Regions from separate parts of the Homo sapiens genome. Here region 1 is linked to region 2. Evidence: fine-mapped expression QTL. Tissue or cell type: whole blood. Region 2 holds a variant in brackets; the other region holds the start of a gene. All regions are shown on one strand. Distances are from middle to middle. Region 1 holds the start of PLXNC1 (plexin C1). Region 2 overlaps LOC124902986 (a long non-coding RNA gene).

The links. PIP is the estimated chance that this variant, and not a neighbour inherited with it, causes the effect.
Region 1: it holds the start of PLXNC1, and the variant in region 2 is fine-mapped to the expression of PLXNC1 in whole blood (TOPMed, PIP above 0.99).

The regions. Positions count from the first base shown.
Region 1 is chr12:94,147,123-94,150,028 of GRCh38, forward strand. PLXNC1 (plexin C1) reads left to right here and starts at 1,455. Exons shown (of 31, transcript NM_005761.3): 1 at 1,455-2,906. The coding sequence starts at 1,850. RefSeq lists silencers at 1,222-1,351, 1,362-1,611, 1,682-1,911, 2,042-2,281 and an enhancer at 2,482-2,581.
Region 2 is chr12:94,122,634-94,125,539 of GRCh38, forward strand. The region is part of intron 1 of LOC124902986 (a long non-coding RNA gene); the gene reads left to right. Among named protein-coding and RNA genes, the nearest start is that of PLXNC1, 24 kb to the right of the region's middle. The variant G/A (reference allele first, on the strand shown) is at 1,395.

The sequences.
Region 1 (2,906 bases), 24 kb after region 2:
AAATAGCCTGGGAAGGAACAGAGATCATTTCCCAACGATCCATAGAGGTCCTCAGCACCCTCCACTCCTATGCACCCCCTGGCTCATCTGCCAGACTGTAAGGGTGCTGATGGTGCCCGCAGCTGCCCCGGGAAGCTGGGAGGCATTTGTGCATCCTCTGGGAAGCCCCATTCCGAGAAATCATGAACCTATTCCCCAGTGGGCAATGATTCCCTGTGCTTCAGAAATTCTTGGCGGCTGTGGGGGCAACCCAGCTGTTATTCACCCTCTGGGTGAGGTGGTGAGACCTCAGGGGGTCCAAAGGATAAAAGTGGGTAATGATGAGACAGATGGAGAGCCTCGAGGGAAATACGGGGACTTGGGTCTAATAGTAGAAAGCAGGGCGGGGGCTGGTTGGTGCATTTAACTTGAGGAACTTTTCAGTCTCACTACAGAGAATGATCTCTGGGGGATTATGGCAATGGCCACAGGTGGCACTTAACTAGAGCCAGGTATGTAAGAGGCCCTGGGGCTAGATATGGATTCGAATCTCGGCTCTGATATCTACCAGCAGTAGAATGCCAGCACGTTCCACAACCTTTCTATAACCATTCTCCTGGACTACTAAGTAGGGATGACAATAACAGTCACTAATTAATAGGGCTGTTATGAGAATTATGAGTCTTAACCCATGTGGTGAGTTCACAAGCGCACCCGGCACGTAGTAAGTGCTCAGTAAATGTTAGCCCCGCTCATTAGGTTAGATGGTGAGCAGAACTTTCCAAGTGCTAGGCTTGAGAGCCTGGGACTCTGTTGCCAAGGGAGATTAGAGAACCTTTGCAAATATGGGCGCTCCGGCCCTGGGGATTGTCCAGAACGAGAGTGTGGCGCCTGCCTTTCTGCCACCTCACTCATCCGACCCGGGGAAACCCACACCCTGTCACAGGGGCGCCTTGGTCCCCGGAGTCTCCGGCTCGGCCATGTCTCCCGCGCGCCTCCCCGGGGCCTCCCTCTCGCCGCTCCACACCTGTCAGCCGCTCTCGCAGCAGCCCTGTGGCCCGAGCCCGGGGCCTCAGCTGCAACCCCTTCGCACCCTGGATCCTCGCTCCGCGCGCCTGGCGTATCCCCGACCCGGCTGCTGTCGTAAACAAAACCGGGCGTTGGAGCAGCACCGCGGGCGGACGGGCGCGGGAGCCCGCTCCGTGCGCCGTTAGCGCGCCCCGGGAGCCCCAGGCGAGCCAAGGGGGCGATGGTGGCGGCCGCGGCGGCCGCGGCGGGCGGCTGAGCTTTGTTATGAATAGATGAAAGAGGCCACCTACACAGTAACCCAAATTACGAGACCTCCCTCCTCCCTATCTCACCGAATCAAGAGGGGAGGGGAGATGGGCGTGGAGGGAGGGCGGGCGGGCGGGCAGGAGGCGGAGGGCGGAGGAGGAAGAGAGGATGAGGAAGGGGGCCAGTTGCATCCCACTTTCACAATGGGAAAGTGAAACGCACAAGCGCACCCAACCTCTCCAGCCCTCCCCGCCCGCCTCGCTCCTCTCCGCCCGTCCCCTCCCTTCCCCTCCGCGCCTCCCCGCGAGCGCCAGCGCTGCACACAGGAACTCTCCGGCGAAGGAGGGCGAGGAGGAAACGGTGCCGGAGCGCGCAGGGCTTGCTGCCGCCACCGCCGCTGCACAGGCTGCCGGAGCGAGCCTGCCGCGCGCCGCCCTCCCCGCTCTCCTTCCTGGGCGAGCTGCGGGGATGGGGCGGCCGCGGGAGCCCGAGCGCGCGCAGGAACCGCCGCCGCCGCCGCCCGCGTCTCCGTTGCCGCGCGCCTGAGCCGCCGTCGCCGCCGCGCGCCCTGCCCGGGGGCGGCCCCCCCAGCCCCATGGAGGTCTCCCGGAGGAAGGCGCCGCCGCGCCCCCCGCGCCCCGCAGCGCCACTGCCCCTGCTCGCCTATCTGCTGGCACTGGCGGCTCCCGGCCGGGGCGCGGACGAGCCCGTGTGGCGGTCGGAGCAAGCCATCGGAGCCATCGCGGCGAGCCAGGAGGACGGCGTGTTTGTGGCGAGCGGCAGCTGCCTGGACCAGCTGGACTACAGCCTGGAGCACAGCCTCTCGCGCCTGTACCGGGACCAAGCGGGCAACTGCACAGAGCCGGTCTCGCTGGCGCCCCCCGCGCGGCCCCGGCCCGGGAGCAGCTTCAGCAAGCTGCTGCTGCCCTACCGCGAGGGGGCGGCCGGCCTCGGGGGGCTGCTGCTCACCGGCTGGACCTTCGACCGGGGCGCCTGCGAGGTGCGGCCCCTGGGCAACCTGAGCCGCAACTCCCTGCGCAACGGCACCGAGGTGGTGTCGTGCCACCCGCAGGGCTCGACGGCCGGCGTGGTGTACCGCGCGGGCCGGAACAACCGCTGGTACCTGGCGGTGGCCGCCACCTACGTGCTGCCTGAGCCGGAGACGGCGAGCCGCTGCAACCCCGCGGCATCCGACCACGACACGGCCATCGCGCTCAAGGACACGGAGGGGCGCAGCCTGGCCACGCAGGAGCTGGGGCGCCTCAAGCTGTGCGAGGGCGCGGGCAGCCTGCACTTCGTGGACGCCTTTCTCTGGAACGGCAGCATCTACTTCCCCTACTACCCCTACAACTACACGAGCGGCGCTGCCACCGGCTGGCCCAGCATGGCGCGCATCGCGCAGAGCACCGAGGTGCTGTTCCAGGGCCAGGCATCCCTCGACTGCGGCCACGGCCACCCCGACGGCCGCCGCCTGCTCCTCTCCTCCAGCCTAGTGGAGGCCCTGGACGTCTGGGCGGGAGTGTTCAGCGCGGCCGCTGGAGAGGGCCAGGAGCGGCGCTCCCCCACCACCACGGCGCTCTGCCTCTTCAGAATGAGTGAGATCCAGGCGCGCGCCAAGAGGGTCAGCTGGGACTTCAAGACGGCCGAGAGCC
Region 2 (2,906 bases):
TTCATTTCTGTTCGCTCTATTTTATTCATTCAGTGTATCACAAGTTGACCATAGCAAGACGAGAAATGCATTAAGGATCATGATTTTGCAAAGCATTAATAAGGATACTGGGACAAGGAAGTTAAGCTTTTGATGGCCTTGATACAACTATTTCAAACTTCTCTATTTCAAACTGACTTCTGCACAAGGGCACCACATCTAAAGGACCATCATTGATAGTAAACACAGTTAGTTTGTATATTTATTATGATAGTTTTCTGGCAGATGATAGTCATGTGTCTTATTCTAATAAATCAGCCCATGACAACAATTTTCCAACAGAAGTAAGCCAAGTGTCTTGAAGAAGGGGTGGGAGTGTGCCTTTTGTAATTCACACACAGGGGCAGTTTGGGCTACATGCAACCCAGAAAGGATTGTTAGCATGTTGGGGTATTTGGGTAAATATGTCATTTGTATGTGGTTAAGGTTCAATAGTAGCCTGGTTTGGGGCATTTAATGGTGTGTGTGAGATGCTTGAAATGAACAGTAAGGTAATATCTTTCCTGCATTTGATTTCCCAAATTAAAATGTCCCTACATCAAATGGCTGTGGATTTACCCTGTCCACTGATCTCTTCCCTGGTCATCCCTGATCTGGGGACAAGTCTTCTGTCAAAAAGGGGCTGAGTGAGCAGCAGCTGGGCTTTCCCTCTCCGCCCTCTCCAGAGCAGGCTCCTTGTGGTCTGCCAGCCACAACATAAAAGTGGAAGTAGTAGTCTGGCTTCTTCTTGGTCAGTTTAAGGTGAGGAGTTTTGTGGGGTTTTTTTGTTTTTTGTTTTTTGTTTTTTGTTTTTTTTGAGTTTTTTTTTTTTTTTTGGAGGTGGAGTCTCACTCTGTCGCCCAGGCTGGAGTGCAGTGGCGCGATCTCGGCTCACTGCATCCTCCACCTCCCGGGTTCAAGCGATTCTCATGCCTCAGCCTCAGGAGTAGCTGGGATTACAGACACCTACCTCCACACCTGGCTAATTTTTATATTTTTAGTAGAGATGTGATTTCACCATGTTGGCCAGGCTGGTCTCGAACTTCTGACCTCAAGTGATCCACCCGCCTCGGCCTCCCAAAGTGCTGGGATTACAGGCATGAGCCACCACGCCCAGCCAGAGCTATTTTTTTTTCTACATTACACTTTGAAAACAAAAAACTTCCCCTCCCCTTTCTCTCTGTCTTCCTTCCCTGAGCTCTGTTTGTGTTGTCCCTACTAATCCCAGGACATCCCCTGTGGAGCTGGAGCTCTTTCTTCATTTTTTCCTTTTCTCCACTTCAGGTCTTAACTTTAAAAACATCTGGGCTATTCCTATACCCAGCCCTGGGTGTCTGAACCTGTTCAGGGAGGTTAGGGTACTGTTGATTGCCCCA[G/A]ACTCTGAGGTTTGGGCATGCACTTCCTGCCACCCTAGAAGTTTCAAAAAAAAAAAGAAGTGTTTCTTAGTAAAAGGGCAGTGAATTCTCAAATTCTATAGTTTCCCTTCCTCCACTTTCATATCTCAGCTACTATCAGAGTAACTTTACCCTACTTTCTCACCCCTGTCTCTGTAAGCCTGATGAAAATCAGGAAGTATATAGTGATGTAGGAGTGGCTGAACATTCTCTGGAGATGGGACACACAAACTTTAGGATCCTGGAAGAAGCTATCAGAGGATCCAGTGTTAAATTACAAAGTTTGGAGTAGGGTCACTTTTCTAAGTGCTGATGTGTTTTCAAAAGAGAAGTATCTTGTAGAGCAAGAGGATGCCATGCTGCCTGGAAGTGACCTTGGGTATAATGGGAACCCTGATACATTCATTTATTCCATTTGTTTACAACAGGTATACTTTTATTCATTCATTTTTTACAACAGGTACAGTTTCATTTCATTCATTAAGCATTTGGTATGTGCCAGGCAATTTGCTAGGAATCGAGGATAATCAGTAAACACAACTAGCCTTCGTGGAGTGAACAGGCTAGTGTTGGAGAATTCACTAGCTAGATAAACTATTCCTATGCAATTACACACAGTGTTAAGTGTTCTAAAGAGAAACACTGTGTGGAAAGAGGGAATAATATAGGGGACGCAACTTTCGACTGTGAGTGAGGGAAAGCATGTCTGAGCTGGGCTTTTAAGCTGAGACCTGCAGGATGAGAGGGAGCCAGCCTGCGGAAGGTTGCGCCAGGCAGCAGCAACAATCATACAAAGACTAAGACATGAAAACTCTAGAACATAAGTTTCGACCCTTCTCCTTTTTCCCAGCTCCTAAGGTTTCGCTTCATCCTGGCTTCTTTGTTATTTCCACTAGTAAAGTACGAGAAGCACTCAGCACCACACCTGGCATAACTAACACTTCTCATGTGCCAGGTGCTACTGGAAGTGTGTTATGTGCATTAACTCATTTAATCCTCATAACCACCCAAGGATGGAGGGTCTATTCATGTCCCTATTTCACAGATGAAGAAACTGCACAAGTCACTATGCAATAATGGCCACGATTATTATTGGAATTAGTAATTTCATCAATAATAGCACAGTGACAATTTTCAGACTTCTGGCAGACTTAATTTTGTTTATTTCTGACCTTTACACTGCTCATTGAGAGCCTCTTTAGTAGACTTCTTCCGTGTACTTTGCAAATTGTAAAAGCTTGTTTCTTTTAAAAAATCCATTATTAATGTTATTGGTGGAAAACTTTTTTAACACTGCTGGTCAGGCTTTATAGAAAAATCCCTTTCTGTATCCTCCCTCATCAGCAATACTTCTCCGAATTCCCTTCGATTCAGCAAAGGTTTATTAAGAACCTGCTAATTGCCTGGCATGACTCTGGAGATGCCAGCTCCAAAAATTCAAAGTCAAGGAAAAAAACCACACAAATAGCTGTAATAGAATAGGATATAGGCTCT